Linked DNA regions of Homo sapiens. The protein of the gene in region 2 interacts with the protein of the main gene of each other region in a pairwise test. Each region holds a gene or a part of one and is shown on either strand. Other genes may lie near its edges. The genes, in order: CIB4, ZBTB9, SYTL4 and DTNB.

Evidence for each region.
Region 1: the proteins of ZBTB9 (region 2) and CIB4 interact in binary tests that used the Homo sapiens proteins (3 or more experiments, as listed by UniProt).
Region 3: the proteins of ZBTB9 (region 2) and SYTL4 interact in binary tests that used the Homo sapiens proteins (3 or more experiments, as listed by UniProt).
Region 4: the proteins of ZBTB9 (region 2) and DTNB interact in binary tests that used the Homo sapiens proteins (3 or more experiments, as listed by UniProt).

What each region holds. Positions count from the first base shown.
Region 1 is NC_000002.12:26,638,360-26,646,054, reverse strand, and holds the start of CIB4 (calcium and integrin-binding family member 4), read left to right. Parts: upstream 1-4,688; 5' UTR 4,689-4,740; coding exon 4,741-4,794; intron 4,795-5,431; coding exon of another isoform or gene 5,432-5,487; coding exon 5,488-5,522; intron 5,523-7,415; exon of another isoform or gene 7,416-7,695.
Region 2 is NC_000006.12:33,449,984-33,457,575, forward strand, and holds ZBTB9 (zinc finger and BTB domain-containing protein 9), read left to right. Parts: upstream 1-4,592; 5' UTR 4,593-4,792; intron 4,793-5,046; 5' UTR 5,047-5,117; coding exon 5,118-6,539; 3' UTR 6,540-7,561; downstream 7,562-7,592. Other genes in the region: SYNGAP1 (ras/Rap GTPase-activating protein SynGAP), read left to right, coding at 1,777-1,923. UniProt on the Homo sapiens protein: May be involved in transcriptional regulation.
Region 3 is NC_000023.11:100,673,991-100,680,145, reverse strand, and holds the end of SYTL4 (synaptotagmin-like protein 4), read left to right. Parts: intron 1-733; coding exon 734-833; intron 834-1,546; coding exon 1,547-1,755; intron 1,756-1,876; coding exon of another isoform or gene 1,877-2,030; intron 2,031-3,969; coding exon 3,970-4,118; 3' UTR 4,119-5,655; downstream 5,656-6,155. UniProt on the Homo sapiens protein: Modulates exocytosis of dense-core granules and secretion of hormones in the pancreas and the pituitary. Interacts with vesicles containing negatively charged phospholipids in a Ca(2+)-independent manner.
Region 4 is NC_000002.12:25,376,719-25,383,577, reverse strand, and holds the end of DTNB (dystrobrevin beta), read left to right. Parts: intron 1-4,254; coding exon 4,255-4,259; coding exon of another isoform or gene 4,260-4,288; intron 4,289-6,024; coding exon of another isoform or gene 6,025-6,248; 3' UTR 6,249-6,335; downstream 6,336-6,859.

The DNA.
Region 1 (7,695 bases), on a different chromosome or scaffold from region 2:
ACAGGGTTTCACTATGTTGCCCAGGCTGGTTTTGAACTCCTGGGCTCAAGAGACCCGCCCGTCTCAGCCTCCCAAAGTACTGGGATTACAGACATAAGCTGCCACGCCCGGCGCTTATTACTTGTTCTTTTGATTTTGACCATGCTGGTGGGTGTGAAGAGGTATCTCACTGTGCTTTTGATCTGCGTCTCCCTGATGGCTACTGATGTTGAGCTTCTTTTTATATGCTCATTGGCCATTTATGTATCTTCTTACATGTCTATTCAAATCTTTTGCCCATTTTTAAGTTGGCTTATTTGGCCTTTTATTGTTGAATTGTGAGAATTTTTTATATATTCTGAATGCAAGTTTCTTTTCAACTCTTCTCGAATTCTAAGAGACACCTAAATCAGGGTCGGAGCCGGGGTTGTAGTTTTACCGGTCTGTAAAACTGTAAGTTGCAAGGTGACAGAAACCTTGCAAAGAATACATTCTGTTCCACACAGAGGGTTCCTGCAGAGGTGGATCCTGGAGGAGAAGGATGTAGAACTGCCCTTCCCCAGAACCTCCTCCCTCCTCAATTATACCCCTTTCAAAATCTCTGCTGAAGAGGAGTTTAAGGGATGTAATGGGCTGGAGATGGATAGAGAGGCAGGTTGGTTAGTGTATCAAAGGCAGAATCATATGGAGGGAGGATTTCTCTCTCTTTTTTAAAGAACACTAGCTTTTATTTCTGGGACAAATGAGATGGTACATAAAAAAGCATTTTGAAATTATAAAGGAATATGCAAATGTAAAGTGATATTCTTATTGTTAGTATTGTTATTGTAGGAACCAATGAAAACCCTCTCTGTGATGAAATGACAGAGCCTGCGGGGGTGCAGGGAAGGCAGGGGTTGGGGAGTTAGGGGGATGAAAGATCAAGGAGAGAGAAGGGTAGCAGAGTTTGCAAACCTTGGGGTCTGTGTGTGAGTGAGAGAGAGAGAGAGACTGAGAGAGAGAAAAAGAGACACAGAGAGAGAGATTCATGATTTCTGGCATATTTCTTTACCACCTGTATAATTATTTACTTAATATTTTTGAATAGGTTCCTATTTCTTTTAATTAAACAGATATGTTTATAGAGGAAACTTTAGATCACAGTAATAAATGGCAAACCTGCATCATTTTCAATATGGAAGATACCTTTATATAAACAAATATAATGAAAACCAGTGTTATTAAATTCTCGCTGGATCCCGTGGTCATCTGGGTCTGTGCAACTGGCCCTGATTTCTTAGCCTGGTTCACTCGTCCCCGTCACTCAGGTCTCTGCTCCGGTGCTTCCATGACCACCAGCACCTCCATCGTCACACCCTCTCTCCCCCGCTCCCTGCTTTCCTTCTTCCGCAGCACGTATGGCTGTCTAAGGGATGTGGGTGCACATATGCGCGTCTGGATCTGTGAGGGCAGGACATCATCTGTCTCATTCACCTCTGTCTGCACTACCTCGCTCAATGAATAGTGGTTGAGTCAGTAGCTTAAAGCTCTGGGCTCCAGGGCAGCTCTCTCTTTTGTTTTTGTTTTCTTTTTGGCAAGTGTCAGCCAGGTGTCAAAGTCACAACCAGCCAGTGCCAAGCTGCCACTTGCACCTCGATGTGATGAGGAGCACTGAGGCTGGAGAAGGAAGTGGCTTTCTGGGTGTGATCCTGCAGATCATCTGGCTTCCCCAAGTTTCCTGCCCCATGCTTTGGGAATCCACAGACCCACATCTTGTCCACTTATCAGCTGACTGACCCAAGAGCGTCACTTCACCTCACCAGCCTCCGCCTTCCCTAGAGCAAAGAAGCAAGGACACCCTACTGCCCTCAATGAGCTGCTTGAGCCTGAATGTAGACAGTTTACATGCACACACCTGGCAGATAGAAGCTGCTTAATCAACGATGGTAGAAGCTCAAAGGGGTTAGCAGAAGATGGGGTTTGACCACTGGCTTAGCCTGCAAAAGTCCTACCCTTCCTTCCAGGCCTAACTCTTTTTTTTTTTTTTTGAGGTGGAATTTCACTCTTGTTGCCCAGGCTGGAGTGCAATGGCAAGATCTTGGCTCACTGCATCCTCTGCCTCCTGGGTTCAAGAGATTCTCCTGTCTCAGCCTCCTGAGTAGCTGGGATTACAGGTGCATGCCATCATGCCCGGCTAATTTTTGTATTTTTAGTAGAGATGGGGCTTCATCATATTGATCAGTCTGGTCTCGAACTCTTGACCTCAGGTGATCTGCCTGCCTCGGCCTCCAAAAGTGCTGGGATTACAGGCATGAGCCACCATGCCCGGCCCAGGCCCAACTTTTAAAAGTAGTAATATAATTTACCCTTATTTTTGTTTGTTTTGAAACAGGGTCTCACTCTGTCACCCAGGCTGGAGTACAGAGGCACGATCTTGGCTCACTGCAACCTCCACCTCCTGGGTTCAAGCGATTCTCATACCTCAACCTCCCCAGTAGCTGGGACTACAGACACACGCCACCACACCTGGCTAATTTTTGTATTTTTAGTAGAGATGGGATTTCGCCATGTTAGCCAGGCTGGTAATTTACCCTTTATTGAGAACTCAATACATAGCAGGTATCTTGCTAAATAAGAGCTTCACATACACCCATCATTTTATTTTATGCCTGCAATACTTATGAAGTAGGGATTTATCATTCCCCTTTTACAGATGAGGAAACTGAGGCTTACAGTATTTTATGACTTGCTTGAGGTGATGCAGTAAGAAGAGATGCTGCCAGGCCTTTCAGATTTCAGAGCCCATGTTCTTAACCACCGCATGATAACAGCAACTTAAATGCCACCACCTACATGAAAGCTTGGTGCCCAGCAAGCCTTTCCTCTTCTAAACACTCGTAACTCTGTACTCTTCCCCGTCTGTGACATCTGCCTCCATCTGCTTTAGTGTGTGTATATATGTGTGTGTGTGTATGTGTGTGTGTGTGGTGAGCACACATTTCTTTTTTTTTTTTTTTTTTCTTACTCCCTTAAAAGAGCATGAAGAGCATACGTTCCTTGAGGGTTGAAGTCATGTTCAGTCCTCTCTCTCCCAGGGTCAAGCCAAGTCCCTGGCACACTGTGGATATTCTACCTGTGTCTGGTGAGCAGATGAAGGAATGAGGGCCCCGGGTTTCCTTCTGCCAGGCTCTATCCCCATGGAGGACAGTCAAAGAAAAAGCAGGCAGTTGCACTTCAGAGATATAAATAAGCGTCATCAGAGAATCACTGGGATGTTTACTCAGGAGAGCATAGGGAAGATGTGTTCTAGAACAAGGAGACCAGCCTTTCATGACAAAGGTGGGTGTGCAGACCCTCCTGGAGGCAGGGGAGGGAGTGATGGCTTCTGGAAGGCCCTCCTGGCCTGTGATGTTGATGCCTGTGCTGGACGTTGTCTCTGTCTGCCCATCCTGCTCCGCCCTGTTCTCTTCCCTGTAGGAGATCACAGAAAGAGGAGAGAGTGGGGCTGGGGTGGTGCTTCCAGGTGGGTGGTGCTGGGTCGGGTAGCAGCTCTTTGTTGTTGGGCTCAGGAGTCTGTGTTATCCAGTTATCCATGTGACTTCCCTACACCCTGAACACATCTTTGTGGAGAGTCCTTTTTTTAGACCCTTTTCACATGATCCTGATTTGATGGTGCCCTTTGTTCCTGCAGAGACCCTGACTGATGGGGTGGAACGCCCTTTTCTGTACTTTTTGGGCCACTCCCTGAGGTTGGATCTATGCTGATATATTTCGGCATCCCCATGCCTGGCATAGTCCTGGGGTTGTGGTTCCTTGTTTATTTTTTATTTTGATTTGTTAGAGACAAGGTCTTGCTCTGTCACCCAGGCTGAAGTGCAGTGGTATGATCATCGCTCACTGCAGCCATGAACTCCTGGGCTCAAACGATCCTCCTGCCTCAGCCTCCTGAGTAGCTGGGACTACAGGTGTGCTGGTGTGCACCTCTGCACCCAGCAGGTTGTAGGGTTTTTTTGTTTTTTTGAGACAGGGTCCTAGGCTGGAGTGCAGTGGTGCGATCTTGGCTCTCTGCAACCTCTACCTCCCAGGTTCAAGCGATTCTCCCATCGTAGCCTCTGGAGTCACTGGGACTACAGGTCATGCCACCATGCCAGCTAATTTTTGTATTTTTTGGTAGAGACAGGGTTTCTGCATGTTGGCCAGGCTGGTAGCAAACGCCTCACCTCAAGTGATCCACCAGACTTGGCCTCCCAAAGTATTGGGATTAGAGGCGTGAGCCACCATGCCCAGCTAGGTTGTGGTTCAAATAGCTAGCATTTATTGAGCACTTACTATGTGCCTGACATTATTCCCTGTATTCGTCAATCCTCACAACAATCCCATGATTATCATCCCCACTTACAGATGAGGAAACTAAGACACACAGATATTGAAGAGCTTGTCCCAGGTTACAATGGGGTGGATCTGGGATTGGAGCCCAGGCACTGTGACTCCTGAGCTGACAGTGTGACTCTCAGCCCCATCTTTGGACTGCCTTTCTGCTTGTTGTATGGGACTGATGCCTCTTAGCTTTGGGATTGAAAATAATTTGCTTCTTTGCTAACTCAGCAACTCAGGTGGAATGGGAATGAAAAGAATTTGTTTCTTTGCCAACTCAGTAACTCAGGTGGAATGGGCAGAAGGTGGAATGTAGGTCACCATGGCAACTGGATCAACGAGGTGCCTCAGCTGGCGAGTCCTTGAGGCTGAGGTTCTACTGCTGGCAGACAGAAAGGTGTGGTTGGCATGGGGCAATGCTTGAGGTATCAGATGCACTGGGAGGACCTGGAAGAGTACCAGGTGGGTAGATCGGGCTAGGGACTCTGGGCAGAGGTGGGAGCTTCCTAAAGCAGGTGGAATGAATGGGAAAATTCCTTCCTGACGCTCTAGCAGGGGTGTCCAATTTTTGGCTTCCCTGGGCCACATTGGAAGAAGAATTGTCTTGGGCCACACATAAAATACACTAACACTAATGCTTGCTGATGAGCTAATAAAAAAAAATCACGAAAAAATCTGATAATGTTTTAAGAAAGTTTACAAATATGTGTTGGGACCCCATTCAAAGCTGTCCTGGGCTGCATGTGGCCTGCAGGCCGTGGGTTGGACAAGCTTGCTCTAGAGTTTACCAGGCGGGGTAGCGGTGGTCCCTCTCTTTGCTAAATCTGCATCCATGTGGCCCAGATGAGATCTCTAAGGTTACCTTCCTCCATCTGTCTCCTGCACCAGAGCCCAGAGTTTCACTCTTGTCTCTGATCTGCTCTCCACATCTGTGCCAATGCCCTCCTTCCCAGGGCTGTAAGAGACTAGGGGGTAAGAAAGAGCACCATTTCCTCTCCTGCTGCCACCTCAGGCATCCACCTCAACCTGGGGTTCCCCCAGCTGTGCAGCAAAAGAATGGGCATTTCCTCCCCAGCCTCTGAATTGCGCCACTCCCCAGGGGCCACAGCAGGGATGAATGGAGTGGACACGTCGCTTCTCTGTGATTTGTTGCAGGCCCTGACCTTCCTGACCAGAAATGAAATTCTGTGGTGAGTAGAAGCCCCGCCCCTCTTTCCTTCTCCCAGCTCCTCCCTCTGAGCTGGATTCTTGCCCTAATACAGCCTCACGCTGGTCCCTGAGTGTGGTCCCTGCTCAGAGCCACACAGCCCTGGAGATGGGGCTGGGACACGGCAGGCAGGGATGGGAGGGCCCAGGGGCCACGATCCGCAGAGCCCCACTGGAGCTGAATGAGACACCAGGCTTTAGGCTGCTAACCTTTTACTGGGATCCAAAGTGAGGTTTCTTCAGAGGATCATGGAGCTGGACAGAACCTCTTTGGAATAATGAGGAGAACAAGGAAAGGACTTGGGGAACTTATGTCTGAAGCCCATTTTGGCTGTCCACTGGCTGGGTAAACTTGGATGCATGACTGAAGCCCAGACTTCCCTCTCCACCTCCCTCCCTCCCTCCCTCCCTCCCTGCCCTTTCTCCGGTGCCTGTGATGTGCTGGCCTCGTGGAGGCCCTGAGGGTGGGGTGGTGAGCAGCCCCGCTCCCTGTTGTCATGCGGACCGCTGTCCAGTGGGGAAGAAACTTCATTCAACGTGGAGGTGGCCAAATACCCTTCTCGTGGGGCTGTGGGGGAGAGTGAATAGTGTGAGAGGTGTGTGTGTGTTTGTGTGTTTGGGCCAAGCCAGGTGCCCAACAAAACCTGTTAGATGAATAAAGGAGCTCACCAAGACACTTTCAGGGGAAGGTGGGGGAAGGTTCCCTCTCATCATCTTTGCTTGGACTAACCCTCCCCAGTCACCACACGGAAGCCACATTTCCCACTCAGGGTCTGGTGGTGGCAGGTAACAACTTTGTCACAAGTGCAAGACTCTCCAGGCACAAATGAGGATGGGGGATGGCCAGGGCACGGGGAGCTAACCAGGGGCTGTCACCCAGTGACATTGTTTCCCTTTTGAAAATAATATTCACTCACTTTTTTAAATATAGAAAAATATGACATAACTCCAAATGACCCATATCCTACTACCCATATAACCTCTATTGAAATTTTCTGAAAAGTATCACATGAATAAAAATAAAATGAAATCTAAAAAAAAATGCTACCTGGCTAGAAAATTCAAAATTCAAATAATGGTTCTCAGTCATAAGTGGGAGTTGAACAATGAGAACACATGGACACAGGGAGGGGAACATCACACACTGGGGCCTGTTGGGGGGTGGGGGTCTAGGGGAGGGATAGCATGAAGAGAAATATCTAATGTAGATGACAGGTTGATGGGTGCAGCAAACCACCATGACATGTGTATACCTATGTAACAAACCTGCATGTTCTGCACATGTATCCCAGAACTTAAAATATAATTTAAAAAAAAAAAAAGAAAATTCAAATAGTGTAAAAGTTCTAAGTGAAAAGAAAATGTCTCCATTCTCTCCTCCCAGTCCTTTTCCCTCAAGGCCGCCTCTGCTCACTGTTGGTTTGTCTTACCATCTAGCCTTCTGGAAGAATTTTCCATACATAAGCCAACACATTTATCCTCCTTTTACCCCATTCACATGGTTGCATTTATCCCTTCATACTGTTCTGTACCTTTTTTTTTTTTAAGCTTTTGGGGTTTTTTTTGAGACAGAGTCTTGCTCTGTCTCCCAGGCTAGAGTGCAGTGGTGCAATCTTGGCTCACTGCAACCTGTGCCTCCCTGGTTTAAATAATTCTCTTGCCTCAGCCTCCTGAGTAGCTGGGACTACAGGTGCCTGCCACCACGCCCGGCAAATTTTTGTATTTCTGTAGAGATAGGGTTTCACCATGTTGGCCAGGCTGTTCTCAAACTCCTGACCTCCAGTGATCCTCCCACCTTGGCATCCCAAAGTGCTGGGATTACAGGGGTGAGCCACTGCACCCGGCCTACATTTTAGAACTTCGATGGGTGAGACAATGTTGTCCTTCAAAGGAGTTGCACCAGTTTGTACTCTCAGCAAGGGGGCATGGCCATGCCTGCCCCTCTTTCTAACCCAGGGGCTTCAAATGGCATTCATGGATCCACCCCTGGGGTTCCTCCTATATGCCAGGAGAGAGCATGGGGTGGTGGACGAGAGGAGTGAGAGGAGTATGGGAAGGGTTCAGGCTCTCTCTCGAACATCGATCCTCCATTTTCATTTGTTCTGCCTTGGCCTTCGGAGAAAGAGTTCCTTGGAAGCGAGCCATGCTTATGGACGC
Region 2 (7,592 bases):
GACTCCTGCAGTGAATTCTTTTGTAAAATGAATAATGGCACCCTAATTTATCCACTTTCTAAATTTGGGTCCATGGGGGTGTCCAGGGCATGCTTATGTGCTGTCACCAGCAGACAAACAGAGGGAATGGAATCTGGGGGTTCCTTCCCTGCTCTCCCGCCATACTCAGGATACCCTACCATAAGTGATTTCCTCTCACTGACTTGCAGAAAATGTGTGAGATACCCAGCAAGCTAAGAAGGCAGTTTTGCTGGGTATCTCATACCCAAGGCTGGGGTTTGGGTGATCTGAGAGGTTAGCTCCTTGATCCTAGGATGGAAGGGAGAGCTTATATAGAAGCTTTTACTTGGAAGGTTTTGTATCCTAAGGTCAGACATAGCTATATTACCAAGCCTAAATGCCATGTGGCCCAGGAAATAATTTGGACATTTGTTCTAAACCACTTGTGGTAGGTATTGGTCTCTCTGCAACTCAGCCATTAATTAGAAATTAGTTTTGAGCCTGAATTTTAAAAAGCCAAGTGTTGCCCCCAGCCCACACACACACACACGGACATGTACAGTACAAACCCCAGATAATTACAACAGCCAAAGAGAGAAGGAAGTGAATTTCCCAACCAGAAGCGTAGGGAAATTCAGATGGCTTTCTTTTCTCCCAGCAGAGGAACAGAAGGCGGAGCTAAGGGCAGGAACCAGGAGTTGGTCAAGGAGCTATAGGAGGTGATGAGAGTAGAACCAGGGGTAGGAGCTGGTCTGGTACCCCTCACCCTCTAATTGGGAGCCCAGGGAGAAGGACTGAAAAGAAGATGGGAGTGGAAAAGAATAAAGCCAGTTTCTGCTTCCCAGGGATGCAGAGATTGGGGCATGCTGTGTCTGCAGAAGCTCCTAGTCATTTCCGCCATAATTGTGAGAGAGAGGGGCAGCCCTCCCACAAGATTTTTCCCTTCCCATATCACTTCCCTGAATCCCCTTCCTTTCCCCCCAGTACAGTTAAACCTCTCTCTAATTTGGAATGTTATATTTGAGAAGATGGCCACTGTGAATAAGTGACAAACGGAATGACAGTGTCTATTTAATGAAATGCATGTCTTCAAAATATATACAGAACTCGATGAACAAGGCTTTTTCCACTCCTCAGGGAGCATGCATTAATGAATAGATAGGATTCAAAAGTCTGTTTTCTGGTATGGGTTAAATATCCCCTCCTACAGACATATTTCCACCACTAATTTGCTTAGTACACCTTTTCTTCACAGATAAAGGAAAATGCAAGCTCAGTTTTTCTTCAGATTATGAAGAAATTCCAAATCCACAGGGGTTTGGATTAATGAGGTTTTGCTGTACTGCCTCCCCTTATTCCTCAACATGAAGTTCCCACCTCGGATTGGGGATGGGTGGGAGGGGGTTTCAAGAGGAGGAGGGTGGGATGGGCAAGGAATATACACAGGTGAAGCCAGAGAAGGGTTAGGTTGGGGGTGCGGTGGGAACTTGCTGTTTTGATCTGGTTTCCTGGTGTGACACTCTGGGTTAAAGGCTTGAAGGCCCCTGTTAGGAGTCTAGGGGTGAGATTCTCTTCTCTCTGATCCCAGAGGACGTTAACTTCTACTGCAGGTGAGAAACAAAATAGGAGGATGGTGGGGACTGTCCTGGGAGGAGGGGGTGGTCCATGGCTTGTGGTGTGGGCTGGCTATAGGGGAGGCCACTGCTAGGGGACTGGCATCCAGGCCCCCTTGAAGCGTCTCAATAAGTCCGCGCTCTCCTTTTTGGTGTCTTGCAGGAGAGGCAGCTTCCCCCCTTGGGTCCAACAAACCCGCGTGTGACGCTGGCCCCACCGTGGAATGGCCTGGCCCCCCCAGCCCCACCACCCCCACCCCGGCTGCAGATTACGGAGAACGGCGAGTTCCGAAACACCGCAGACCACTAGCCCACCCAGCATCAGAGACCTTCTCTTCCTTTCCTGTGCACCCCACCCTGTAACAGCACCAACCACCAGGATTGGACATCACCGAGGAACAGCGGGATTGCCTCCCCGAATGCCTCCCTGGGAGGCACACTGATTGCCCACCCCCACCACTGCACCATTTCCAGGAGGGAGAGTGGGGACCCTCAGCCGCCCCCTTTTCCTTCCCATTGGGGTGCTGCCCTCTCTTTGACCCCCAGGGACCCTTGCCCCAGGACACCGCCTACCCCGTACAGACCCCTTCACTCCGGGGTGCTATCCCCATCCTCTGCCTCATCGTTCCCCTGAGCACTGGGGGACAGACCCTCACCCCCACCCTGGGGGTGTGGCACCTCCAAACTTTCAACTTCAGGGTGATTTTTTTAGCAGTAACCAGAGCTGACAATCTAACTCCCCTCCACCGCCCCATTTTGGCCTCCCCTGCCCCCCTTGTTATGGGGAGGGGACCCCGGGTGAGGGGGCCCTATTACCCCTTGATTTCTCAGGAGCGTCTGGGGGGGCTCAGCACGCACAAACTCCTTCTCCTTCTACCACTCTTAAATTTACTCCCTCCCCACCCAGAACCCAGATGGGGTGGAGGGGGCCACCGGGGCAGGGAGGGGGCGGCAAGGGGGGAATGGGAGTTGTCTCCCCTTCTCCCCACACCTGATCTGCTCTCGGCTGGTCCCAGAGCGGGGTGAGGGGGCTTATGCCCCCCCCTCCCCCAGTGTGTTGGGTGGGGTGGAATTGAGGTTAGGGTGAGGGGTCAGGGTTTAGGAGGGTGTGTATGTTGGGAGGACAGGCTAGTTGATCTGTCCTACTCTGACACACAGTCCCCTCTGCCCCTTCCTTCTCTCTTCTTGGTCTCTACTCCCAGGGGGAGGGGGGAACTTACTCTAGGAAAAGCCATGTCTCTCTCCCCCAGGGTGGGGGGACCTGTGTTGGAGGAGGGGTGTTGGGGGGCCCCCTTCCATGACTCTGTCCCCTGGGGGAGGTAGGACAGGGCTGGGCTTCCCTCTCATCCTCCCCCTCCCAATCTCCTTCCACCTCCCTCCCTCCCGCCAGCTCCACGATTTTTCGGTGTTTCTCTGTACATAGTTTTCTGGCGGGATAGGGGAGGTAGGATGGATGGGGTTTGGGGTGGGTAGGCCATGGGAGGGGAGAAGCCCCTCCTTGGCACCCCCTCTTCCCTGACTGCTGTCCCCTACCCAGCCTTGCCCCCTTCATCCTTTTGCGTTTGGTATTGAGACTCTCCTAGACTCTACTCCTCTTTCTTTTGTATGGACAGTTCCCCTTCAGTCCCATCCCCCTACACATACACCCAGCCGGGGCCAAATTTATACTTATATAAAAGTTGTAAATATGTGAAATTTTATCCCTGTGCCCTTTCCCCACCTCAGGCCCTACCCCTGGACCCTCCCCAACCTTCCTTCTCTCTTCTTTGGCTGTTGTAATTATCTGGGGTTTGTACTGTACATATCCGGGGTGTGTGTGTGTGGGCTGGGGGCAACCCTTCTGTACAGAGCTTCCTGGCCCCCTCCCCCCCCGCCCCTCTGCTTCCCTCCCCACCCACCACCTCAAGGGTAGGGAGTTGCTCTTCCTACCTGTTTTATTTTGTTTTCTCGTTCTCCCTCCCCACCCCACTCCCAGCCTTATCTATCCCCCCTCACTGTCCCCTTTTCTCCACTCCCAGCCCCATTTCCTTTTTTTCTGGAGTGTGTGGTGAAACAGAAAAAAACATGTTTAATAAACGGAGATTGTTCTTTTATCGCTGTGCCGACTTTCTTAGGCAGGGCTCTCCAGACCTGTACGGTGGTAAGATCTGCTTTCTGAAAGGAAGCTGACAGCCTGAGAGGAAAACCGTATATCCCCACCTGATGCCACACTCTCCTCATAGAATGTCACTCTCCCCTCCCAATGAGATTTTTTATATTTTAGAGCAGGAGTTTTGCACCGGCCAAACTTCTCCAATCTAACTCTCCCCTCACCACTGTGTCACTTAGTCCGAGGCCAGGAACAGCGGCGTTATCTGATAAAAGAGTTCATGTATATATCCACATTTATCTCTTTTAAAAATTACCTAGAAATAAGGTTTCTTTAATTGCTGGTTAAAATGCTCCCGTGCAGAAAACAGGAAAGAACCTGCCTGGTTCCTTAGCAAATCTGAGTTCCAGTCCCAGGTCCACTACTATTAGCTGAGTGACGCTTCCAGCCCGTTTCCCCCGCCTGGAAACTGAGGACGGCAACCCCCACCCTCGCAGGGCCGGTGGGAAGACACAAAGTGATGTGGGCAAGTGCCAGGCCCACATGGTAAGTACCCAACTAATCTCGCCCCTCTCAGGACCTACCGGGGGCGGGTGCTACACTTAATCACCGGGAAACGCAGCTTTCCGGGGCGGCTGACGGCCCACCCCCTCCGACCGGGCTGTTCTCTCCCGGGCCCTGCCTCTCGGTCCTCTGCAGCGGGGAGGACTTCAGCAGCTCCCCGGGACGCCCGTTGCGAGGACACCCTGGGCCTGTGCCCTCCTACTAGCACCGCCCTCCTCGTCTGCAGTAGCCAATCAACACGAGGCTTGTAGGCTGCCGTTCCTCGATTGGCTACGGCTCTAGCTCCGCCCGCCGCACTTGGCGACGGTGTCCGGCGGGGAGGCGGCGGCTTCCGGTCTGGGACGGAGCTGTAGCGGCACTGTAACTGCGAGGGCAGCGCCGCGTGTGTAACGGCGGGGGCGTGTCGGCGGGAAGGACAATCGGGCCGGGACTCGCGGTGTCCGGGTGACCGCGGCTTCCCGGGAGCAGACCTCTGTGGGCACTGTGAGGCGGAACGGAGCGGCGGGGCAGGAGCTGTTCTGGGCAGGTGAAGGCAGGCTGGTGGCTGAAGGACCTCCTTCTTATCTTCCACAGGGGCTGGAAGTTAAAACCCCTGTTGGTGTTTAGTGGTGGTGGTTGTTGTTGTTGTTTGTTTTTGCTTTCTTGGTGTGCGGGACTGATTTGCAGAAACCGCCACTGACTTAAAAGTTTCCAGTTATTGCTCGTGGGGAGGGGGTTGTTTGAGAAGATGTGGCTCCCTTTATCCAGGGCTTCTGTGACCTCCATCTTTTTCCTCTGCAGCCTTCATCCCGCGTGGAGTCTACCCCCAAGCCCTTCTCCTCTTCCCAATTCTTGTCACCTTCGAGGAGGCCATGGAAACCCCAACACCTTTGCCGCCTGTACCCGCCTCCCCGACCTGCAACCCAGCCCCACGGACAATCCAGATCGAGTTCCCACAGCATAGCTCGTCTCTGCTGGAATCTCTGAACCGCCACAGGCTAGAGGGAAAGTTCTGTGATGTGTCCCTCCTGGTGCAGGGCCGGGAACTTAGGGCTCATAAAGCAGTGTTAGCTGCTGCCTCTCCTTACTTCCATGACAAGCTGCTTCTGGGGGATGCGCCTCGTCTCACTCTACCGAGTGTCATTGAAGCCGATGCCTTCGAGGGGCTGCTCCAGCTCATTTATTCAGGGCGTCTCCGCCTGCCACTGGATGCTCTTCCTGCTCATCTCCTTGTGGCCAGTGGCCTTCAAATGTGGCAGGTAGTAGATCAGTGCTCAGAAATTCTTAGAGAATTAGAAACTTCAGGTGGTGGAATTTCAGCCCGTGGAGGAAACTCCTACCATGCCCTTCTTTCCACTACATCCTCTACAGGAGGCTGGTGCATTCGCTCTTCGCCTTTCCAGACCCCAGTACAGTCCTCTGCTTCTACTGAAAGCCCTGCTTCCACTGAGAGCCCTGTGGGAGGGGAGGGAAGTGAACTGGGAGAAGTGCTGCAAATTCAGGTGGAAGAAGAAGAGGAGGAGGAGGAAGATGATGATGATGAGGACCAGGGGTCAGCCACACTCTCTCAGACTCCTCAGCCCCAGAGAGTATCAGGGGTTTTTCCCCGTCCTCATGGACCCCACCCACTGCCCATGACTGCTACTCCCCGAAAGCTTCCAGAGGGTGAGAGTGCACCACTTGAGCTTCCTGCCCCTCCTGCACTGCCCCCCAAAATCTTCTACATTAAGCAGGAACCCTTCGAGCCTAAGGAGGAGATATCAGGAAGCGGAACTCAGCCTGGAGGAGCAAAGGAGGAAACCAAAGTGTTTTCTGGAGGGGACACTGAAGGGAATGGGGAGCTAGGGTTCTTGTTGCCTTCAGGGCCAGGGCCAACATCTGGGGGAGGGGGTCCATCCTGGAAACCAGTGGATCTTCATGGGAATGAAATCCTGTCAGGGGGTGGAGGACCTGGGGGAGCAGGCCAGGCCGTGCATGGGCCTGTGAAGCTAGGGGGGACACCCCCTGCAGATGGAAAACGCTTTGGTTGCCTGTGTGGGAAGCGGTTTGCAGTGAAGCCAAAGCGTGACCGGCACATCATGCTGACCTTCAGCCTTCGGCCTTTTGGCTGTGGCATCTGCAACAAGCGCTTCAAGCTGAAGCACCATCTGACAGAGCACATGAAGACCCATGCTGGAGCCCTGCATGCCTGTCCCCACTGTGGCCGTCGGTTCCGAGTCCATGCCTGTTTTCTCCGCCACCGGGACCTATGCAAGGGCCAGGGCTGGGCCACTGCCCACTGGACTTACAAGTGACTGCTGAGGCTATACACTAGCTTCTAGAACAAGATAACCACTGCTGCTGATGGATACTTTTCCCTCACTGCCATGGCACACCAGTCATGGATCTTGTAATCATGCCAAGAGAATAGATACATTATGGACCTCTTGTTCTTAGATATGGGCCTCTCAGCCTGGCAGATGTGGAAACTCAAATTTCTCGTCCCACTCCAGGTTTTGGCTAGCCAACCCTGCAGGAAAGTGGTTTATAGGCCATTCATACTTAAGTTGATCACTTGCCCATGGTGGACATTTTTGTGGTGGTGATGTCCATTAAGGAAACCAGATTTTCAATTATTTAGTGAGAGAAGAGTTAGAGCAAAAGACAGTGGTAAATGTTTTATTCCGTCTCCATGAGGAATTGAAGGAGTTGGTCTCCACCTAGAGATACATTTGATTTACAGCTTAAGTAATTCAGAGGCTAAGCTCTAAGCTTTTTTCTCTCATTGCTGGAATGATTTAAGCAGAAGTCCTTTTGTGTACTTTTAAAATTGTATCTTTCCAGGAGCCCCTCAGATTGTACCTTGCTTTCTCACCAATAGACACCTTCCCGACACTTTTTTAATGTTGTAGCTGAGCACTTTAACAAGTTGAGCATTCCATGTTTCATTCTTAGAACCTTCTTTAATAGAGGGTCTTCCCTCAACAGCCTGTGCCTCTGGTCTACCTTTGACCACCACTGATAACTAATATATTGGTCACAATGACTGGAATGTGACTAGTGATCTCAGGAGATGGCACTGTCCTAAAGTGCTGTCAGGGTGGCACCACTGCTCTCTGAACAACTTACCTTGGTCAGAGGGACTCAGGTTTGGGACAGCACAAGCTGAAGGCTGGAGAGTAACTTGCATAGTAGGACCATACCTCTTCCTTTCCCATCCCACCCACATATGATAGACAGCCCCTCTGTTGAGATATGGAGGGGACAGATACTGGAATCGGGGGTGGGACTTGCAGTTACTTAAAATTTTTTAATAAACTGTGCCCTGAAACCTAAACTGACAGTGGACTGGATTGAGTAATTTGTGT
Region 3 (6,155 bases), on a different chromosome or scaffold from region 2:
CAATTGGCATTAGATTGCATTTTCAGTGGATCAGTGAAAGCAGAAACCAGATTTCACTAGAAACTAGGCTGAGTGAATGGGCAAAGAAGTAGAGGTGGTAAGTGTGGACTTTTTTTCCTCAGGATAATTGATGGTGAAAGAAAGTAGAGACATGGAGAATAGCTTGAAGAAGAGATAAGGTTAAAGGGAGCTTTTCTTTTAGAAGTACTTTTTCAAAGAGATGAGATTAGTATATATTTAGACTGAGGGGAAGGGACAAGTGGAGAAAGAGATATTTAAATTGGGAGGTGAGGATTGAAATTGATGATGTCTGAAGAGTCCTGTGAAGTAGGGGTGGAATCGAGAACTCAGATGGAGGAGTTCCCTCTTTTTTAAATCATTGAACAAATATCAGGCAACTTTATGTCTCTAAGCCTCAATTTTCTCATGTACAAAATGAGGACAAAAATAGTGTGACTCTCCTAGGGTTGTTTTGAGAATTAAATGCTTAACATGGTATCTGGCACATAGCCAGTTTTCAATAGGCATTTATTAATATTGTGGTTGTTATTAATACAGCACCTATTGCTTACTGGCAGGCACTGTGCTAGGCACTGAGGAGACAGGACAGGCACGGTTCTGTTATGGAGCTCGCTGCCTTTAGGAGCAAGCAAAGAAAGTGCTGCATAAACAAAGCTCAAGATAAATCTAGAGGTGGAAGGGGCTCACTTGCTATGGCTGACATCCCTTACAGGTAAAGGTGGGGAAGGGGGAGAGCTCCAGGTGTGGATCAAAGAAGCCAAGAACTTGACGGCTGCCAAAGCAGGAGGGACTTCAGACAGCTTTGTCAAGGGGTGAGTCCCTAGACCAGCCCCAAATTAACCAGTTTCAGAACAAGAGAGCTAAGAGAAGAATTTAACTTTCTCTGTGGATATTATCCAGTGTGTCTTACCACTCCCGGCAACCAAATTTGTTCCTGAAATTAGGTAATGACAAAACCTTCACCACCTTTGCACTGGTCTGGGCTGTAGACTTGATAATCCAAAGAGGAGGGCTGCAGACAGGTTCTGACTTTTGTCTGACTCATGTTCTTAATTAATTCTGGGTGAAAATCTGTGTCTTCTGACTGTCTAGATTTGGGAACTCAGGGCTTTGTTTCCCACAGTTTTTAAGCTTTCCGAAAATTACAGATTACCTACTGACTTAATTTATCTAGAAATCATGTTTGGCTAAGTTTATAGATATTACTATTGGTTTTATTTAAAGAGATAAATTGTCTAGTAGAAACAAAGCCAAATATTTAAAACCCATTTTCAGTGGAGCACAGAATAGCCTCACTAATACTATTATATTCATTTTCTCTCTAGGTTAAAGGAATTGAATCAGGTGAATGATCTAGTAGAGGTAGTGGGAACTCTGCTTCAGCAGATTCAAGGAGGGGCGTGTGTAGTAGGATCTGGATGTGGGTTCATCTTCTTGGGCTAGGCCTGTGGTAGGGGAAAGGGGAATTTAGAGAGATAACTGTCCGCTTTGAGTAGGCTGTTGATTACTCCCCGCCCTCTGCCAGATACCTCCTTCCCATGAGGAACAAGGCCAGTAAACGTAAAACTCCTGTGATGAAGAAGACCCTGAATCCTCACTACAACCATACATTTGTCTACAATGGTGTGAGGCTGGAAGATCTACAGCATATGTGCCTGGAACTGACTGTGTGGGACCGGGAGCCCCTGGCCAGCAATGACTTCCTGGGAGGGGTCAGGCTGGGTGTTGGCACTGGTGAGATCCCCTCCCCCATCCTCACTTGTTTGAAGGCTTCTTGTCTATTTTACTCCTATTACCATTCCCGCCCCCCAACACAAAGCTCCTCTGTGATGACAGTTGTCTTCTTTCCTTTCAGTTAACATTCAGCCAATACTTATTGAGTGCCTACTATGTGCCAGGACTAGGGGAAGGCTGAGCTCATGCACTGATATGTGCACAGATAAATGTGACCCTGATTGCCAGGAACTTCATAATCTTCCCACCAAAAAAATCTACAAACCTACCTATATGTATGTACCTATACATTCCATCTTCCATGCTGTTAATAATGAAAGAAGGGTCATTGCTAGCAAAAGCCAAGCTCTCTCCAAGTGCTCTGGGCCACCTCCCCCTACCCTTCTCGATGACCTCACTTCTATAATCGTCATCTCTCAGTTTCATCCTCCCTACCTACCAGGGGTGAATACAGATATGCTCTGGTATTTCCAATCTTATGAAACAAAAACAAACCTTTCCTTGACTACACGTTCCCCTTCTAGTTTCTTAGAAAGAATTGTCTCCACTTCTCACCTCTCCTTCAGCTCTCCTTCACTGTGATCTGGCTTTTGTCCCACCACTCTGCTGAGCAGTTGCTCTTGCCAAAGTGTTGTTCTCATCTCACTAGAATTTTCAGCACTATTTAACATGCTAGATCACTCCTTTTCGCTTGAAACGCTGAACTTCTATTGACACTGCATTCTGATTCCCTTTTAAGTCACTGCTCACCCCTTCTCAGTTTTCTTTGTAGGTGCTGCATTCTATACCCAAACTCTAAATGTTGGTGCTTGGCAGAGCTTAGTCTCGGATCCTCTTCTTTGCCCTCTCCCTAGTCTCTGCACTTGTCTATTAATATACTTATATATTAATAATCACACAGAATATTTAACATGAAGCATATAGACTGATGTTTTTACACATGTAAGCCAATTCATGTCAGTCCCCTGTTAAAACCCCTCAGTGGCTTTCTGTTGTGCTTAGAAAACAATCCAAAGTTCTTAACATGCCTACAGGCCCCTGTGTAACCTGGGTCCTCTGTTCCTTTCTGATCCGTCTTGTATCACTCTTCCCCTTGCTCACTATGCTTCAACCAAAATGACTTTCTGCTCTCCAAATATACCAAGCTCATTCCCACTTCAGAACCTTTGCAATTATTGTTTTCTCTGAATGGAAAGTCTGGTTCTTTCTTATCCTTCAGGTCTTGGCTCAAATGTCACCTTCTCAGAGAGTCCTCAGACCACTCCATCTGCACAGTAGTTCCTGAGTCAGTCACTATACATCACCCTGTTTATTTACATCATAATGTTAACCTCACTGTCTGAAATACTCTTATTGGTTTGCTTGTATATTTTCTGTCTTCCCTATTCAAATGAAAGTTGCCTGAGGACAGAGACTTTTTCTGCTTTGTTTACTAGTGTCTCTAGAGCCTAGAAGAGTACCTGGCACACAGTAGGCACTCAATAAATGTTTGCTGAATTAATGGATGAATATATAAGAGAATATGAATGGGGCCACATACGATCCTCACTTCTGACCTGGAGTCTGCAGCTAGAGGAGAGGTGTTTAGCTTTAAAAGAAAAAAGTTGGCCGGGCACGGTGGCTCACACCTGTAATCCCAGCACTTTGGGAGGCTGAGGCAGGCAGATCACGAGGTCAAGAGATCGAGACCATCCTAGCCAACATGGTGAAACCCCGTCTCTACTAAAAATACAAAAAAATTAGCTGGGCGTGGTGGCGCAGGCCTGTAGTCCCAGGTACTCTGGAGGCTGAGGCGGGAGAATCGCTTGAACCCAGGAAGCAGAAGTTGCAGTGAGCCAAGATTGTGCCACTGCACTCCAGCCTGGCGACAGAGCGAGGCTCCGTCTCAAATTAATAATAATAATAAAAGAAAAATGTTTAAGTACAGTTGGCAATAGCTCTGGCATGAGTTGTCAGGCACTAGAACTCTGTAACAGCCTCAGAATAAGAAGTCTCTAGTGACTGTGTGCCATTTGGAGTCTGATTTCATCAACCCAGAGTCTCTTGACAGAGTCTCAGGAATACAGGTGAGGGAGCACTTCCCAGACTGCTGTGGCCATTAGCCCATCTTCGTAGGAAACTGTTATGGGGTGGCTAATCTTGCTGTACAACCCATCTTCCCTGGTGGGCTGAGAGTGGGGCCCCTCTTTAGCCTCTTCTGGTGTTTCTCCTCAGGGATCAGTAATGGGGAAGTGGTGGACTGGATGGACTCGACTGGGGAAGAAGTGAGCCTGTGGCAGAAGATGCGACAGTACCCAGGGTCTTGGGCAGAAGGGACTCTGCAGCTCCGTTCCTCAATGGCCAAGCAGAAGCTGGGTTTATGAGTCCCTGTCCTCTTCTGCAGGTCCAGCCCTGGCGAGGGCAGGTCAGAGGAAGTGAAGAAATCAAGAGCAAAGATTTATAATTTAATGTGTATGTGTGTATGTGTGTATGTGTGTGTGTGTGTGTGTGTGTGTATGTGTACAAACATGTATTTTCTGCAAATCTCATTATGCTGGCTAGAGTGATGCAGACTTGTTCTTCTTTTTAAAGCAGTCTCAAGAATAAGCATTTCTTTAAAATGTTTCTGTGTATAATCTAGTTTATTTTCAGAGTCCATTTTTTCTTATGTCTTTATAAGGTTCACTTAACTTAAAAACAGCTTTTAAAACAACTTTTTATCTTCTGTCTTGCTATCATTGTTCCTACTTCCCTAGGAAGCCCTGGCTACCTTTCGCATTAGGACCAGTCTGGGTTTTAAGGCTCTGGGAAGCAGGGTTGGTTAGTAAAGACAGGAATGTTGGGGAGAGGTGAGTAGTTCCTTCCTCTTTCTCCTCTCCAATTTATGCTTTTAACTTATTTTCTACCTGGATAAACTTCTGGAACTTGGCTTTTAAATTTAACTTTTCTAGTTTTTAAGCAGTTTCCACCTTGCTTTGGTCTAATGCTTTTCTTTGAAATGCTAACAGAATTCCCAAGCTTTTTCCAGTTCTAGATATCTTTACTAGACCTTTGGGGGACTCTTATAATGGAGCTGCTTTTGAAAAGCACTTTAATTAGATAATGTATTTTGACTAAATCACGAGGATGCCCAGTGAGAGCTTCTAGCTGATCTCAGAGGACCAGAGTGACTGAGGGTAAAGTGTCTCACAGCCCATGCTGAATTTTCTGCATTTTAAACTGATACTGCAGTCATTGGAGAGAGAGCTCCTCATTTCTCGAATGAAAGATGAGATATATTCATCCTCATGTACCACATCTGTCTTAGTGTTTGCGTCTGGGGTGTGTTATCAAACAGAGCATGGTCTACATCCCACTGTGTCAACCAGAAGAGCCAAGTGTTATCTCAATTGGCCCAGTGTTTCTCCAGGCTGGGGACTGTTAAGGGCTCTAAGGGAATGTAGACAGAGTCTCCCTGTTATTCTGACTTCCTGCTTGATGAGCTTTCAGTTCCTGTTTTTGCTATTGTTTCCTAAATTTGACCTACATATTACATGGGTGTAGTGTGTTGAGGCTTTTCAAAGAAGGGTCTAGTGAGCTAAGTTTCATCTTCTGGTACTCATTGATCAAACTGACCTTTCTATTCTCATAAGCGTTTCTACCCAAAGTTGTGTGTGGAAGGAGTGTATAGCAGAGAGGAAATCCCTTTCAACAGAGTCAGCTGCTAACTGATTTCCTATAAGCACACTGGATTAAGGGCAGCCACAGTGGTTTCTACTGTATGTATGAACCGAATGGAGGAATGTTTTCAAAGATTGATTTGGTGTGGATTGCAATTGTAATGGAAGGCATAACTTGGGATCCCGGGCTGTAACTTGCTCTTTTGTTTCCCACCCCCCTGACATGTATGTGTGCTTTAATAAAGCTTTCTCACTTGTCAAACGTTTGTGTTTGTTAGTTCTATAAATGCTTTTGTCTCTGATGTCCTCACTGTTGCTTTTCCCCTGGCTTGAAGGATAAGAACCAAAGTGATAAATGCTCTTCCCTAACCATCCTATGCTGATTGAAGAAAATTCACCTTTCCCCGCATTGCTGCCTGATACCTTAAATGCCTGATACTTTCGCTGAGCTTGATCCCTCGTCCTTTGTATTTGGTATCTAAGGAGAACACTGAGAAATCATCTTTAAAGTGGCACCACTTTTCTATCTTGTAACAAAGGAACTCTTCCTTTAGCTTTGCAGACCCTCCTATACTGGAGGAAGGAGAGAGATGTTCATACAGGAGGTGAGGGGAGACATTCCCTGCTATAAGCACTTCTTTCTGGATCCTTCAATTTCTCTGGGAGGCGGGGACTTTTTCTTTTACTCCTCCTACCATTATGTAGTTTTGAGAGAGAAATAACACAGGTGCCAAGTAACCCAGCTCAGAAATAAGGCTCTTG
Region 4 (6,859 bases), on a different chromosome or scaffold from region 2:
ACACAAAAGATGACCCTTTGACTGGAGAAGTTTATGATCTAGTTAATAAAGCAAGACCAGGCCAGGTGCGGTGGCTCACGCCTGTAATCCCAGCACTTTGGGAGGCTGAGGCGGGTGGATCACAAGGTCAGGAGTTCAAGACCAGCAGGCTGGCCAACATAGTGAAACCTCATCTCTACTAAAAATACAAAAAATTAGCCAGGTGTGGTGGCAGGCGCCTGTAGTCCCAGCTACTTGGGGAGAATGAGGCAGGAGAATCACTTGAACCTGGGAGGCAGAGATTGCAGTGAGCCGAGATCACACCACTGCACTCCGTCCTGGGCAACAAGAGTGAAACTCCATCTCCAAAAAAAAAAAAAAAAAAGACCAAAAATGCAAAATAAATAGATCAAATGAAGTGGCAGAAAAAGCTAATCATAAAACTTTCAGCATATAAGTATAATAAGGGTTTCTGAAAAGGAAGAGATTGTTGTGGACTAGAATAGCCAAATGGTTTTGTGGCTTCATGGAAGAATAAAACCAAGAAGGGAAGGTGTCAGCAAAGGACAGTAGTGCCTTCCTAGTTTCATTATATATCGAACCTGCTTAACACATGACATCTGGGAAGAGCTGCAGGGAATGATTTTCACGTATGATGATCTCATCTAATCCTTAACACTGTGAGACAGATTCGAATATCCCCATTTTACCCATGAGGAAATAGGCTCAGAGAGATGTTGTTCATGTAGCTGTTAAACGGCAGAGATTTAGGCCAGACGTGGTGGCTCACACCTGTAATCCCAGCACTTTGGAAGGCCGAGGCGGGCGGATCACTTGAGGCCAGGAATTCGAGAGCAGCCTGGCCAACATGGTGAAACCCTGTCTCTACTAAAAATACAAAAATAAGCCAGGTGTGGTGGTGCATGCCTGTAATCGCAGCTACTCGGGAGGCTGAAGCAGGAGAATCCCTTGAACTCAGGAGGCAGAGGTTGCAGTGAGCCAAGATCACGCAACTGCACTCCAGCCTGGGCAACAAAGAGAGACTCTGTCTCAAAAAAAAAAAAAAAAAAAAAAAAAAAGGCAGAGAACTGGGTCTTTCTGACTCCAAACTTCGTGCTCTTAATCTTCATCCTTCTATGTTATACTGAACAGAAAACAAAATTTTCTTTGGACATTTGAGGGTGAGCTGTTCTTTCTGTTGTGCATTAATGTGTTAGTTGCTGGATTCCTCCTAAACATCAGCTCCTCAAGGCAGAGATTTTAGTCTGTTTTGTTCATGTTGTGTTCCAGTGCCTGGTGCTTAGTAGGAGGTCAATAAATGAACAAATCAAAGGAAATAAATGGGGTGATGAGATAGAGAGTACCTTATCGGGGAGAGAAATGCAATGGCTGGTCACCCCAAGGAGGTGAAGGTAGGGAGAGCAGGAAGCATGAGGAGGAGCCAGCAGCAGCCCTCCCAGGGAGGAATTCTGAACAAGGCTCGGGGGAGTGAAAGAACCTGCCAGCTGATAAATGGCACAGCCTGAGTTCAACTCCAATGCCCATGGTTTAGTCTGAGCTGAACTGGTAGACTAAGGGAAGTGGAGTGGTCTTACTTAAGGAAGGGTAGAAGCCAAGTGGGAGATACAGGTAAGGAAGCTGTGACAAGAAAGGGAAACCTACAGGACAGTGGGTCTGGAGCATTCTTGGCCCATAGGGGCTGGAGTGGCTAAGACAGGGTCGTCTTTGGAGTCTCACGGGGCAAGGAATTTGTCAGCAAGGACCCTGAAATTGCTGAGGAAGAAACTGGGAGAAGAGGAAGAAGATTCTGCAGATTCTGAAATCGTCTAGTGAGTCTGAGCTAGGCCTGGGAGGAAGTGGACAGCAGCGCCAACGAGTTGATGAGAATGACATATGTGGCACGGACACCAAAAGGTCAGACTAGGCTGGGCATGGTGGCTTACACCTGTAATCCCAGCACTTTAGGAGGCTGAGGCAGGGGGATCACTTGATGCCAGGAGTTTGAGACCAGCATAGGCAACATAGCAAGACCCCATCTCTACAAAAAATAAATTAGCCGGATGTGGTAGTGCACACCTGTAGTCCCAGCTGCTTTGGAGGCAGAGGCAGGAGGACTGCTTGAGCCCAGGAGTTTAAGGCTGCAGTGAGCTATAGTCACGCCACTGCATTCCAGCCTGGATAACAGAGCAAAGCCCTATCTAAAAAATAAAAATAAAAGGTCACATTAGAGAGCAGTAGTGTTTCAGACATCCAGGAATGCTTCATAGAAATGTAGAAACAATTGACTTACCCACACAGACAAGAAAGAAGGCAGGAGGGCAAAAGGTGAAGAGATACACAGATAAATTTACACTGGTGTAAACACATGCTGCAAACACGCGCACACACACGCACACGCACATGCACATGCACATGCCAACCAAATCCTAGCATTCATGTGGAATGTTCCTGGCTGAAGACATAACAGCTGCATCTCTGGCCTCCCTTCACCTGCCCCTCCCTTCCCCAGTAGCTTTTTCCCATGGCCTCTCCTCAGTCCTTTTCACTCCACCAAAGCAAACCTAGGACTGCCCCAGCCACTGAGGCCTTGCCCTGGCCACGAACTCTAGCCCTTATCCTGGTTCGAGTCTGAGTGTGGGCCATGCCTCACATGGGAATCAGACTGGGTTTCCCTTGCCCAGCCCTCCAGGCCCCAGGGTGCTGTCTCTGCACCTGCACTCCCCTGTCCACATCAAACTGGGTTTCCCTTGCCCGGGCCTCCAGGTCCCAAGGTGCTGTCTTTGCACCTGCACTCCACTGTCCACATCAGACTGGGTTTCCCTCGCCCGGGCCTCCAGGCCCCAGGGCACTGTCTCTGCACGTGCACTGCCCTGTTCGCATCAGACTGGGTTTCCCTTTCCCGGCACTCCAGGCCCCAGGGCACTGTCTTTACACCTGCACTGCCCTGTCTGCATCTCTTCTGTCTTTCTGTGCCTCTTGCCCTTAGAGCTCCTTGTCTGTCTTTCAGTGCATATACCAGAATGTCTGTATGTCTATGTGAAATCTTTTTGTGGGAATGCCTGAATTTTTACGTATGTGACTTTCTGGTGTCATCCCTAAGGCCAAGAGTGTTAAGAGTTGGGGTGAGAGATGGTAGAGTTTTTTATGTTTGGCTCTCCACATTATATAGGTTCTAGGATATGTCCCTGAAACTACAACGTAGCTCATACATGGGCATTTTTATAAGACTAAGTGTTTTTATGGGTGGACCTCCTGATTCTCTGCCATGAGCTAGGCCTGAGATTTTACAGACCTAGGACTAACTGCAGTCACCTGGACACCAGAGATCTGTAACTGTCAACCGTAAAGAGAGAGAGTATATTTGCTTCTTTGGGGTTGAAACCATACTGACGTAATATAAACAGAATTTGGTCAGCACCATCAGGCAAACATAGTCTGCTCGATAAGGAAACTGTGAGAGTCAAATGGAACTTTTGAAGAATCTAGACCAAGCTGAACTTCCCTGCCATATTCACCCCTGCCTCACGCCTCTCCCTGTTCACCCCTGGCTGGCTGGCTGCATCCTGGGGAATGCTTCTGCTCCATCGGGGTACCCTTCCTCCTCTGCATCTCCTCAAGAGAAGTGTAACCAAGACACATAGAAGAAGCACAGACTAACACACCTTCCCCCATAGTACATCATCTCCACCCTCCACAGCCTCATGTTATGCTCCTGTGTCCTTCACAGTCTCCCCTCCCATACCCTGCCATCCCGGTGTGGGGGCTGTAAATCCAGTTTGCATCCATAAAGAGCCCTGGTGCAAGGCTGGACAGCAATGGCCCTCAGAGAACAGAACAGGCTCAGGAGGGGCCAGGCAGTGCTCGAGCCTCGGGTGAGCAAGCGCAGGGCTTTTCAAAGCAGACCATCTGCAGGAGGGGGACCGCCCTCACTCAAGGCGCAGTCATGTTCCCTTGGGGAACTTTCAGAGCTGAGTGGGCTTTGCCCCCCTCATGTAACTGCTCCCTGGATTTAAGGAGTTTTGATTCCATTTTTTAATGACTTTCCTTCTCCTGAGAAGCATCTGTCTCCATGGCTGCCTCGGGTTGGCTACAGTAGTAGAAAGTATGACTCTACCCTGCTGTCATACCTGGGTGGGAAAAGTCAACAAACGAGTAACGGGAGAAGCAAGGAAGCCCCTGGGGTGGGTTGGTCAGGGAAGCCCCTTTGAGATAGTCTGGGGCATGAGAAGACCTGGCCGTGACCTCAGTGTGTTGTTTCTGCCCATGCTGCCACAGGTTAGCAGAGGAGCCGGACACAGAGGAAGCTCAGGTGAGTACAAAGAGTCCTCTGCCTCCCCACGGCCCCTCCCTCCTTCCTCAGCATCTTCCCTTCCCCTCCCTTCCTGCAGTCACAGGTCCCTAGCCAGGGCAGTCCTAACAGGTGAAGATGCAAGAGCCCAACTGTCCCTTCCCTTTGCCCACCCCAGCCATGTGCCCTCCTTGCCCTGTTTCTAGGCTGTGTCCTGTCTTGCACAGCACTGTCTGCAGGCCTGGTCCTTGGGCATGGCCTGGTGTCCTCTGTGTTGGGATGGCATTGGCAGACCCGACACTGCTGGCTGAAACAGGGTGTGCTGAGCAAGGCCACCTCCCTGGGGAGCACTGCCTCCCATGCTCCTTTCCCACAGCCACTGCCCACTTCCTTCCTGGGATCCAAACCACAGCCAGTGCGTCCCTGGATTCTGTCACCCAGCACTGCACCGAATCACAGTCCCTGACCCACAGACATGTGATTCATGCAGGATCACACTGACTACAGGGCTGACCAAGCCGCTTCCCATGGTGCCCGGCCAAGCTGCACCTTCTCACTTCCTGAAGAAGCAATGCAGAAAAGTACGGACTGCTCCAGTGGCAGATGCTCATTGCCTTTAGGAATTAGTCATTCCCATTTTCCAGCTCAACACCTTAATTCTTTCTAGTCCCAGCACCAAGATATCAGACTTCTCCATTTTAAAATCTTGTCTTCCCTCCCCTCCTCCCACCCCCCCACCTCTTATATTTAAAAATTAGGCATCTTCCTCGAATAAAGAAGTCAGGGCCCTAGCTGCACAATCCAGAAAAGGGGTTTTTTCAGACCCTCCCAAGTCGTGTCATCCTGGAATAGCCTCTGGCCCTCTCTGCCCAACCGCGCCAGGCCATTGAAGGCCTCTGCCCGCTCCCCCGGGGCCCCTGCAGCCTCGGCCTGCGCTGACTCTGGATTGTGCGAGCTGAGGAGAGGGCAGCACCTGGGCCACGCACATTCTCTCGCTGCCCTGGAAATCACAGCGCCCCAGGGGCTTGGAGAGAGGCTTCTCCCTAAACTCACTGTGCACATTCAGGCAAGGCCCTTTCCCAAGCAAGCCTAGGCCGTGGCAGCCGAGGAGGGAAATCAGGAACTGACTCGCCCTGCAGGAGCCTGCCAGAGCCCCTCTCTCCCCGGGGCAGAAGGAACTGGGGTGCAAGGGAACGTGGCAGAGCCATGTGCCCCCACCGCCTTGTTGCACATGGAGGAAACCAATGCCCCACACCAGAAGCTCCATGCCAGAAGCAGAATTGGAGCCGGGTCTTCTGCCTCCTAATCCTGCGCTCTCTGACCCACATCAGGGGTGATGAGAAACACCAACAGCCGAGAGTTAAACTAAGAGTATAAAACTTGGGTGCCGCGGATTCATGGATGCCCAGGCCTGCGCTCTGCTGGCCGGGGGCTGAGGCTTCCTCCCTTTCCTCTTAGTATTCATCGGCACACCTCAGTCCTCCCTGCCCTTCTCCTGGGCCACAATTCTCCCCAAGAAATCACCCCATTCAAACCTTGCATTGTGAACCCAATTCTTTCTTCCACGGAAACACTTCCTGACCCTTAGGAATGATGGCAGAGGACCCTAGGTACCACCCTTCAGCCCAACGCTTGAAAGGCGCCCAGCATCCTAGCAGCCCCTCCCTGCAGGGCCTCCTGTTCACAGTAGATGTTAGCAGCTTTTGTCCTGAACCCTCAACAGTGCCCGTGACTAACGGTGAGTGTGTCTTGCGCAGGCACAGAGGACGAGGAGCAAGCTGGCGCCGACATGGCGAAGGCAAGGTCTTCCCCCAGAGGCACATTCCTCTCCATCTTTCCACCGCACACCTGGACCAGGCTTGCAGGCTGCCAGACGTCACTCCACCCGCCAGGGAGAGGGGAGCCAGAGCCGGTGGGAAGCGGGGAGGGGCTGCGTGGCACAGCTAGTGGGCCTCCCCCTGCACAGCCCTGCATGTACTAGCACCTTCATCACTCCCCTCAGGGCATGGTCTCATCTCCGCATCAGGAATTCACCTGGAGGTTGAAAAGAGAAAAGAAAAAGCACCAAGCTCTTGTGTGTTTGTGACCTGATGAAACACTTCCTGGCGTCTGGCCAGCACGTGGGGTGCTCCTGAACGTGGGGGCACAAGTTTCCTTATCTTTGACCTTTAAAAACCAACAGGTTTCTTCCAGCGTGCAAAGAAAGCGTCAGGCCTTGCTCGGCTCTGTAGACATTCACACCCTGGCCACGGTGCTAAAAATAGTCTCACACTGGTTAGGCTTCCGCCCGCCCCGTGTGATGCCGCCGCCTGCAGCCCGGGAGGGAGGGGCGGAGACCCAGCCGCGCGCCGCAGCCGGGCTGAGCCTCCTCGGAGAGGGCGGGAGGGTCTCTGCGCCGCGGACTCCGTGGCCGCCAGGGGGCGCGCCGCCGGGGGCGCTGCTCGCAGCCTCTCGCCTTAGGGGTCGATTGGGCTCGGGCACACGTGATCAAGTCCCGTTCCCGGTGATTTTCATTTATTTTTTCCTCCTCCCTGGGCTCCAGGATGTTATTTTTAGCAGAAGAACTGCTATAAATATTTATAAAGGGCAGTG